4 separate regions of the Homo sapiens genome follow, and regions 2, 3 and 4 are each linked to region 1. Evidence: fine-mapped expression QTL. A gene starts in region 1. Each other region holds a variant in brackets. All regions are shown on one strand. Distances are from middle to middle.

Region 1 (2,690 bases):
TTTTCACATTTACTTTGTAATGGCAAGATTGATTTCCATCTGGGACTTATCTGCATAAAAGTGTTAGCCTTGGCACAATTTCAAAATTGAATTGAAAGCTCATTTCTTGCTATAAGCAAAGTGCCACAATACCACACAACAGTTATACCTCACATTAATCCTACCACTGGGAGTCCAATTTTATGTGTTTCAGCTAGCGAATTCTGCCCTCAGGTAAGCACATAACTCTATAAAACCCTTCCTCGATCATCAACAAATCACTTATCTCTACTACCTTAATGCCTCCTGCACTTGTCCATACTAAACAGTATTTACACGTTAAAAGAGAAGTTCTACAAATGCTACTATTCTTCATAAATAGAAAAAAACTATAAATGAGGGCAAATTCCCATACGTGGAAAAATGCCAAACCAGAAGCTGAAATCATAACTTTTAGGTATAGAACCACAGCTCCAATCAGTCAACTACAAACGTCGCCGGTTACTTCGAGGGTAAATAATTTGCAGCCAGCTGGTAAAAAGCCTGATAAAAATATTAGGTCCTCACATATCTTCCTTTTCAATAAGGAGACACCTGAAAGTCACACTGGGCAGTCTGTCACGTATCGAAACATGCAGAAGAGAGACTGTACAGAACGTGCAGTTATCAAACGCAGGAAGCCAAAGTTCCTGTGCTATGAGAGGACCACAGTGAAAAACGGTAGCCCATCTGTCCAAAGAACAGAAAGAAGTCCACCTGGAAAGGATGGGAGTCGGCGGAGGGGGGCGAGAAGAACGAGTTCCACGCCGTCTTCCTCCTCCCGGGCTAACTGCAGCCGCGGGCGGCAGGAAGGCAGCCGCGCGGGGTGGGCTCTTGGGGACTGGGCGCAGGGCTCCGCGGCGCGGCTGGGCTGCGGCTGCCCGATCGGCGAGGGCCGGGCCCCGGGAAGTCTCCAGGGCCTCGCCCGCGCAGCCAGGAAAGCATGCAGCCCACCGACGGGCGGAGGAACCGCCCGGGCAAAGCCACGTCGGTGGCTGACCGCGCGGCAGGGAGGTGGGCACCCTGTCCACACCCACCAGGAGGCTGACAGCTGGCGAGCGCCAGGCGGCCGGGACGGGACAAGGGCCGCAGCGCGCCGGAGGGGGTCGCTCTGAGAAAGCCGCGCTGGGCGCTGCCCGTCGCCAACGACTCCCCCTCGCCCGGATCAGCGGCGGCTGGATACTCACGTAGGGCTGGTAGAACTTGGAGAGCCGCGGCTTCCCGTGGTTGTTGAAGATTAGGATCGCCTTGATCATGGCTGTGCCGGGCCGACCGGGTGGGCACTGGGGGCCAGGGCGGGGGCGGGCGCGCGAGCCTCGCCTCGTAATCTCGCCTGCGATCCTTCCCCACCCGCCCCCTCCCGCACGCGACCGCGCGCGCTCCCGAGCCGTCGGGCGGGGCCCAAGGGGCGGGGCCTGGGCGGGGCAGGCACTAAGGAAAGCGGAAACATTTCTAGGTCCGAGCCAGCGGCCTAACTGGAGTGTGCGCATTCGACCGAGCACAGACACGTTGCCCACCGCTCCTCTCCCGAGGTCTGTAGTCGCGGAGAAACACATGTTGCGTTACTAACGTTCAGAGGTCTGCGACAGCTTCGATTTGAATGACTAGCCGGGAACACCAAGTTTCACTGTGTAATTGCGTCCCCCTACTCCGGCGCCTCCTTTGCGACGCTCCCTGGAGAAAAGCACGCCCACTGCACGCGCTCAGTCGCTACTTCCGCTCTCGAGTGTCTCCAAGCAAGATGGCGGAGGAGCCGCAGTCTGTGTTGCAGCTTCCTACTTCAATTGCTGCTGGAGGGGAAGGACTTACGGATGTCTCCCCAGAAACAACCACCCCGGAGCCCCCGTCTTCCGCTGCAGTTTCCCCGGGAACAGAGGAACCTGCTGGCGACACCAAGAAAAAAAGTAACTGAATTTATTTCCGGGCAGAGAGGCGGGAGGTTCAGATTGCATCCGAGTAGGGGTGGCGGCCAGTAAAGAAGCAAAATTTAGAGGAGCGCCTGTCCTAGACCTGCATTTTGACCAGTCATCAGAAGAAAAGAAGTGTACTTTTTGATTTTTAAGGCCTTTAAGTTGAGTGTTAAAATACCATCTCTGTCTATCGGTGTAGGGCCTGATACTTGGCTGCCACACTTATTTTTATACTGTATTTTTTTGAGTTGGCCAGACTGCGAGCTCTTTGAAGGAGGGAGGGAGCTGAGTGGGGCGGGGGGAGGGGGGTCTCGGTAATTCCAGGTACTTAACACAGGAGCTAATTATTTGAGTAATGTTTTATGGTGGTAGGGGTGGTCATTGGCAAAGCCTGGATTAGAATTCATGCCTTCCAACTTAACTCGCTTTTGCTTTTTTCCCCCTCCCAGTTGGTTGTGAATTCACTCCTTAAACCAAAAACCAAATTCTTATGCAGAATGAAGACTGCTAAGGGAAAGCTAAAGGCATAGATGTTACCTTTTTAAGAAACACATTTTGGAACCTTTGTGAGTTATTTCATTGCTTGAGTCAGCTATCCTCAACCCTTTATTGCTTGAGAATGTTTCCCTTTGTAAAAGAGATTGCTAAAATTACGTGTTCTAAAGCACTCTGTTTAGAGTTAGAGTTGCCTATGGGAAAAGCAGCATATAAGCATCCTCGATTCAGAGAGGCTGATTTCGTCCTTAGACGTTTTCCCCGTTC
Region 2 (2,690 bases), 99 kb before region 1:
TACAGAATGGAAGAAAATTTTTGCAATCTACCCATGTGACAACGGGCTAATATCCAGAATCTACAAAGAACTTAAACAAATTTACAAGAAAAAAATCAAACAACCCTATCAAAAAGTGGGCAAAGGATATGAACAGACACTTTTCAAAAGAATACCTTTATGCAGGCAACAGACACATGAAAAAATGCTCATCATCACTGGTCAGCAGAGAACAGCAAATCAAAACCACAATGAGATACCATCTCAGGCCACTTAGAATGGCGATCATTAAAAAGTCAGGAAACAACTGATGCTGGAGAGGATGTGGAGAAATAGGAACACTTTTACACTGTTGGTGGGACTGTAAACTAGTTCAACCATTATGGAAGATAGTGTGGTGATTCCTCAAGGATCTAGAACTAGAAATATCATTTTATCCAGCCATCCCATTACTGGGTATGTACCCAAAGGATTATAAATCATGCTACCATAAAGACACATGCACAGGTATGTTTATTGCGGCACTATTCGCAATAGCAAAGGCTTGGAACCAACCCAAATGTCCATCAGTGATAGACTGGATTATGAAAATGTGGCATATATCCACCATGGAATACTATGCAGCCATAAAAAAGGATGAGTTCATGTCCTTTGTAGGGACATGGATGAAGCTGGAAACCATAATTCTGAGCCAACTATCACAAGGACAGAAAACCAAACACTGCATGTTCTCACTCACAGGTGGGAACTGAACAAAGAGAACACTTGGACACAGGGCAGGGAACATCACACACTGGGGCCCGTTGTGGGGTGGGGGAATGGGGGAGGGATAGCATTAGGAGAAATACCTAACGTAAATGACAAATTAATGGGTGCAGCAAACCAACATGGCACAGGTATACATATGTAACAAACCTGCAGGTTGTGCACATGTACCCTAGAACTTAAAGTGTAATAAAAAGAAAAAAAAAGAAATTGAAACTTAAGTACAATATGATTCATATAGGTTGCTATTATTATTATCATTATTATTTTAAGTATGAGCTCAGATGACTCAACCTGAAGTAAAGATTCCTAGCAGCTCAGGAGCTCTGCTATGAGAGGAGTGTCCATGAAACGCTCGGGCCGACAGTTCACATCTTCTCCTTCTGCCCTTCCTCCCCCTGCCCCAGTGTGCAAGTTGCTCAGAACGCTCAGCTGTGAGCATCTCTCAGCTGTGAGCCGATTCTTCCTAAAATAACTAGAACAGTCCCCTATGTTTTCCACATGGGATATCAGTGCTCTTCTCACATTTTTTTAAGCCTCGATCTTGATATTTTAATTCATTTTC[C/A]ATTTCATTTCTGTAAGACTTTCCTGGTTGTGAAATGTTAGTGTGGTCAGTTCATGTTTCATTAACTTCCCCTCAAGCCTATGGAGATTTCTAGTTTGCTAAGGACATGTAGATATGGCCAGGCCCACAAATGTTGACTGTACACTGACTCTAACAAAATTCAAGGGGAATTTCCAATGTGGTGAGAAAGGCATGTCCTACTGACAGGAAGAGGGAGGGAAAGGGTGAAGCTGAAACATAAGCAACTTCCTAGGAGCGGCAGTGTCTAAGGAATGCATTAAGGAAGAGGGACTGCCAGCTGGGCGCGGTGGCTTATGCCTGTAATCCCAGCACTTTGGGAGGCTGAGGCGGGTGGATCACGAAGTCAGGGGTTCGAGACCAGCCCGACCAACATGGTGAAACCCCGTCTCTACTAAAAATACAAAAATTAGCTGGGCGTGGTGGCGGGCGCCTGTAATCCCAGCTACTCAGGAGGCTGAGGCAGGAGAATTGCTCGAACCCGGGAGGCGGAGGTTGCAGTCAGCCGAGATCGCGCCACTGCACTCCAGCCTGGGCGACAGAGCGAGACTCCGTCTCAAAAAAAAAAAAAGAAAGAAAGAAAGAGGGACTGCCAAGAACATGGTGCACTTGTTAGTCCCATAAGAGCAGAGCACAGCCTCAGCATTGTTACCTCTGGATAAGAACATGCATGAATTCAGAGACCAGGAAGTTCCAGTCTCTTCAAGGATTAAGTCAGAGAATCTTAAGGGATAAGAGTCTGGCCATACAGTTCCAGGAAGAAGCTCCAACATCTGTTCCATCTGTGTCTGGGCCCAGATTGGGACACCATGAAGCCAACTGGCAAAATGTATTATTTCCCCTGGCCAGAAACATAGCATCTTTAGAAATGTAAATTCTCCTTGACTTTTCTCCCTATTCCATATGTTGTTTTCATTATTGGGTTTTGTTTTTCTTCTTATCAGATTTTCTTCCTAACTACTTCAAACCTTGACCTTGGACACACCTCAAAAAGAAAAATGCTGCCACCACCGATTCTGTGAGCCTGGAAGACGGTAGCTTTGGGAGGCAGGACGAATAAAGTTTTCTTCAAGGTCATATATTACTTCATAGTGGAGCTGGGGTTCTGCAATCCCTGTGGTGCCTAACACAGAGCTTTGTACACAGGAGACATTACAGAAATGTGTATTTGCTAATTGTAGGTGAATTCCTGAAAGTTGTGTGTGAATTCCATTTTTATAAATTGAATAATACTTTTAAAACATATGGGGGGCATGTTTAAAAGAATACTGCATTGGATCATTTTGTAAAATGAATATCTACCTCAATTTATCTATTTTGCCAGCAGAATTAGGTTTATCAGTTTTCCTAAAAACTGAGCTGA
Region 3 (2,690 bases), 100 kb before region 1:
AGCCTGTACCGCGAAAACTCCCTACTGCTACTGTAATGCCAGGCGGGGCCACCCTGAAAGAGCAGAGAGTGGGCCGGAAACAAGGACAATGAGGCTCTGTGCTTTCTATCTGGCCTAACAAACATGGAAGCCAAGAGCAGTGGCAAGTAACCCAGAGTGGAAGTCTGAAGGCTCAGGAATTCTGCTACCACCAAATGATGACCTTAAAGCTATCTATATGTACTGGCCTTTGAATATATCCAGGTTTTGTACATAAATGAGGTCACATGTATGGTAATGCCCCAAAGATACCACTTTGCCCACTTACTAGCAGAAATTCCAGTGTTTTCTGTCCAGGGGTTCTGTGGCCCTAGATATCTTCCTAGTGATGTTGTCAACATGAATTAGAAATTTACTGTCATCAGGCCAGATGTGCTGGCTCACGCCTGTAATCCCAGCACTTTGGGAGCCCATAGTGGGTGGATCATGTGGTCAGGAGATGGAGACCATCCTAGCTAACATGATGAAACCCCGTCTCTACTAAAAAATACAAAAAATTAGCCAGGGGTGGTGGTGGGTGCCTGTAGTCCCAGCTACTCGGGAGGCTGAGGCAGGAGAATGGCTTGAACCCGGGAGGCAGAGCTTGCAGTGAGCTGAGATCGCACCACTGCACTCCAGCCTGGGCGACAGAGCCAGACTCCCTCTCAAAAAAAAAAGAAAAAAGAAATTTACTGCCATCACTAACACTACTCCTTCTAAAATGATTCTGGAATAGGCTCCTTGAGGCTAGTGAGGGCCAGGGTTAGGTGCAGAAGTTGTACATTCTTGAACGGCCCAACTTTTCCAATTTATTATACATATTTGATAAATGCAGGGCATGCAGTACAGTAAGCTAAATGTTGTAGGATTGGTTCTCCAGAAACAGATGCTGAGATGGAGTTTGGGTTGCAAGATGTTTATTAGGGATCAATACCTATGACGGGAGGGGGTTAAAGCAGGATTAGGTAGAGGGAGAAGTCAACAGCAATGTAGGTCAACCCAGCAGGGAGCTCTAGAGTGGGTATGGTCCTTCAGAGTTGTCCCAAAACAAATATCCAGGGCTTTATATTCCTGAAACAAATGGCCAGGCCTTGTTCA[G/T]TCACCAGATGCACAGTGCCCAGGATGGGCATGACTTTGGGCAAAGTGAGTCTCTGCAGCTGAGGCAAAACTAGAAGAAGCTAACAGCTGTAGACTGTTTCTGATTGCACTATCACTGCTTGTCAGCAAATCCTTCCTTGAAGGGGGATCTCAACGGTTCATACCTGTGTCTACCACACTGACGGGTTAGTCCACACCAAGGAGGGAGGAATGCCTCTTTATTCCTCGTCCCATTCAAGTCTTTTAATCTCATCTCTTGAAAAGGAAGTCAGAATTGCAGACATGAGCGCCTTTACAAGTTAGGCAGCAAGACTGAGCTTGCCACTAACGTTTATCCATCCATCCAGCAAGTAAGGATTTATGGAGCATCTATTCTGTGCCAGGCACTGTGTTAAGTGCTGGAGATTGAGACATTAATAATTGACCTCAAGGGCTACAGCCAGCTGAGCAGATACCTCATGGATGGGCTTCCCAGTCACATGGATTCCTTTTACTGTGGGAATAGCTTTGATGCACAGTGGGGCCCTTTCATCAAACGCAATTGATCCAGTGTTGACACTCAACCCAAGCTGATGCAATCCAATTTCCTACTCTGGAATGTGTAAATTGTAGTGGAAACACTTGTGAATGGGGGGTATCGAAGCAGAGAGGCATTAATGGCGGGGCCCTGGAGAGAAGGTTCATGCACACCACATATCATTGTTTCAATATCAAAACACTGAAAATAACTCACATACCCATTAATGGAAGATTAAGTAACTGGTCATGCAGCCATATAGTAGAATATATATAGACACTAAAATTATAATGATAAGCTCTATTTATTTGCGTGGTATATATCCATAACATGTTATTTAAAAAAGCAGCATTTAAATATGTTAAAATGGAAAGATTCAATGCATATAAAATATCTGCTTATCACTGGAGTATAGAAATTAAGCCTGTGTTTCACTTTCTTCTTAAAATATTTTCTCATCCTCTGGATCTTCTGCAACAAAAATATGAGGCCAGCATCATCCTGATACCAAAGCCTGGCAGAGACACAACAAAAAAACAGAGAACTTTAGACCAATATCCCTGATGAACGTCGATGCAAAAATCCTCAATAAAATACTGGCAAATCGAATCCAGCAGCACATCAAAAAGCTTATCCACCATGATCAGGTTGGCTTCATCCCTGGGATGCAAAGCTGGTTCAACATACGCAAATCAATAAATGTAATCCATCACATAAACAGAACCAAAGACAAAAACCACATGATTATCTCAATATATGCAAAAGGCCTTCGACAACATTCAATAGTGTTTCATGCTAAAAACTCTAAATAAACTAGGTATTGATGGAATGTATCTCAAAATAAGAAGAGCTATTTATGACAAACCCACAGCCAATATCATACTGAATGGGCAAAAACTGGAAGCATTCCCTTTGAAAACTGGCACAAGACAGGGATGCCCTCTCTCACCACTCCTATTCAACATAGCTTTGGAAGCTCTGGCCAGGGCAATCAGGCAGGAGAAAGAAATAAAGGGTATTCAATTAGGAAAAGAGGAAGTCAAATTGTACCTGTTTG
Region 4 (2,690 bases), 65 kb before region 1:
TTATAAACATTTAGATAAGCTCATGACAATTCTCTAGACAGCAATAACTATGGTGTTTCACAGTTTTAACAAAATTAGAGTGCTCAAAAATTTAAAAAACCTTCCAAATTATTAGTCATTTTGTACGGATTATCTTCAATTATAGCTTTAATTTCAAACATAGGATTTGCCTGCATGAAAAAAAGAGAGCAGACTAATGACTTTCATGGATTTATCATTACTAGTTTTGACCATTACAAGTGACCTCAAGGGTTCTCACCATAATTTTGTAGAAGTACAAGACAAATGTGTATGTCAAGGTAGAGAGGCAGAACCAGCTCATGAGCTGACCTTCCACCATCAGTACCTTAGAGCCACTTTTCTTATTCTCTCCTCTTTGAAAACAGAAACTTGATTTTTTTTAAAAAAGGCCAATTAACAGTTCTAGCAATAAAGTTAACAGACCCAAGTGATTAATGGTTCTTTGCTGGAAAATAGCAGTAATAAATTACATACTGTAACACAGAAACTGGCAATAATTCTGACCAATGGTGAGAATGAGACTACTATGTATTCTCTATATGAGGGACAAAATAACATGGATAGAGGGACCAAAAACGGTACCCCAGTTTTGTGACATAGCCCACAATCTCAAAATAAGATACTATAAAGCCACCTGTATGTTGCTACTTCTTCTCAAACACATCGAGAGAGTAAGTAAAAATTTAGTGGCTAAAAGGCAATGCTTTGTGATATCACCACAATCATCAATTCTCAGTGATGTTTTTCTAATTAGTAAGTGCATAATCTAACTTCGTAAGTTTATACATTTTTTCCTCCATAGGACTCAATAAATTACTTTTATTTTGAAATTTTCAATCAGAGACCTTATAAACATTTCTTTTGCTTACATGGTTTCACACAAAATAGTTGCTCATCACCACGTACATGGAACTTTTAAAAAAGTAATTCACACAGTTAATTTATGGTGTGAAAAAACGTACAGGAAATATCAGAAGAAAAATTAGTTTTGTAAAACTAGAGGTCTATTAAAAATATTTCCAATATTTGCCAATACGCTTTGCAAAAATATTCAGGGTTTTTAATTCAATACTAAAACATTAATATATTTTTATTGATTCTGATTATGACATGTTTGGATGTCAGAAGGTTTGCTACAATGAAAACCCATTGTATTTTGGTGATTTGGTAATTTGGTAATTCCATTTTTCGAGCATTCTAGTTTGAAATACAGTCAAGTTTTATAAGATTTCTGATCTTATTTTCTGTTGGCCACTGTTAATATGCACCTGCAGGTCAAAACTGTAAAAGCAATTCTGTTAAGACTTTGGAAC[T/G]GAAAACCATTTGAGGGGAAAAAGTACTATTTAACAGTCACTATTCTAAGCCTTCACTGCTTCCCATTTTGTATGCAAAACTCTGAAGGTTCAGCTTTTGGTTTTTAAATTCACAGCTTCCAAAACCCAGCAGGCAATTTTATGTTAGAATCCTAATTTAGAGATGGAAAAAAAACAAATCTGTGAGAGTTAAATTAAGATTGGTTCTGCTATATGATGCTCAAAATAAATTTTACGTTTTTATATACAAAGTAAATTGTCACTTCTGCAAATGCAATTTGTCAGTTAGATGACAAGTGTTTAAAAAAAATTTAAACTTTCCTTTTACAATGCAGGCAGACAAAACAGAACAAACATGACATCAATGATATACTAGTAAAATACACTAAGTCCAATAAAAGATGAAGAAACTACAAGGAGAAACTAGAATGGAAAATAGGCTACAGGGACTATATGGGTTTATTAACACAAAGAATTTTTGAGTCTGGCCTAAATAATTAATTGCCTTTGACATCATTTTGCTTTCCCTTTGTTATAGTACATATTTCTCAAAGTCAGCAATACCTTGTCTACCTGTCCTGTCTGGGAGACTGAAAGATAAAGGTCTGTAAGAGAGAAGAATGGAAAGAGCTAGAAAGATCAGGATGTTCGGAAAAAAAAGAGGACTGACTTTCAAAAAGTAGTGACTAAATTCAGACCCATTTATCCATCTTAAGAATAACATGAAATACATAAAAGCTAACAGATCTCCCCAACCCCACCCCTCTACCTCCACCCCCAGGGAGTCCTTTTATTCTTAGGCAGGTTCCTGAGTGCCTCTTATACTTCCCCCGAATCCCATCAACCTCCCAGCTTAAACCCTCCTCTCCCAATATTCCAATGTTATAGTAAACCATTTTTCTATCAAAATAGAATAGATGGAAATACATTCAGAGTATATCTTTGCTTCTCTCTTTCAGGATCTGGCAGAGCTTTGCTTCCACCTGTCTAGGTATTGGGAATTAAACTGGTTCACTTTTTTCCATTACCAGAAATGTACTAACTTTAGACCAACATAATAAAAGCTCTGATTTCTGACAAAGGCCCCTAGATAAATGCATGTTATGTTTAAAAAGCTGTGTCTCAATTATACCCAGACTGATTTTTAAATATAAATGATGTTCCTAAGATATTACTTAAATAATTTTTAAAAATATTGATAACCAGTTCTTTTCATCAATCATGACATTCTCGATTTTAAACAAGTCTTTTTTTGTGTGTTTGTTTTTGAGACGGAGTCTTACTCTGTCACGCAGGCTGGAGTGCAGTGGTGCAATATCAGCTCACTGCAACCTCCGCCTCCCGGAATCGGGCGAT

What was found.
Region 2: its variant is fine-mapped to the expression of AP3S1 in blood mononuclear cells (TOPMed, PIP 0.98). The same link has a PIP of 0.9 or more in monocytes after LPS, monocytes after Pam3CSK4 and monocytes after R848.
Region 3: its variant is fine-mapped to the expression of AP3S1 in whole blood (TOPMed, PIP 0.97).
Region 4: its variant is fine-mapped to the expression of AP3S1 in whole blood (TOPMed, PIP above 0.99). The same link has a PIP of 0.9 or more in blood mononuclear cells.

Annotation. Positions count from the first base shown.
Region 1 is chr5:115,840,622-115,843,311 of GRCh38, reverse strand. AP3S1 (adaptor related protein complex 3 subunit sigma 1) reads right to left here and starts at 1,377. Exons shown (of 6, transcript NM_001284.4): 1 at 1,206-1,377. The coding sequence starts at 1,274. It overlaps ATG12 (autophagy related 12), which reads left to right and starts at 1,747. Exons shown (of 4, transcript NM_004707.4): 1 at 1,747-1,922. The coding sequence starts at 1,760. RefSeq lists enhancers at 531-740, 1,731-1,780, 1,791-2,090, 1,479-2,380, 2,384-2,690 and silencers at 831-1,020, 1,121-1,500.
Region 2 is chr5:115,940,000-115,942,689 of GRCh38, reverse strand. No RefSeq gene overlaps it. Among named protein-coding and RNA genes, the nearest start is that of LINCADL, 15 kb to the left of the region's middle. The variant C/A (reference allele first, on the strand shown) is at 1,310.
Region 3 is chr5:115,943,684-115,946,373 of GRCh38, reverse strand. No RefSeq gene overlaps it. Among named protein-coding and RNA genes, the nearest start is that of LINCADL, 12 kb to the left of the region's middle. The variant G/T (reference allele first, on the strand shown) is at 1,117.
Region 4 is chr5:115,906,070-115,908,759 of GRCh38, reverse strand. All of the region lies in intron 5 of AP3S1 (adaptor related protein complex 3 subunit sigma 1), which reads right to left. Among named protein-coding and RNA genes, the nearest start is that of LINCADL, 49 kb to the left of the region's middle. The variant T/G (reference allele first, on the strand shown) is at 1,335.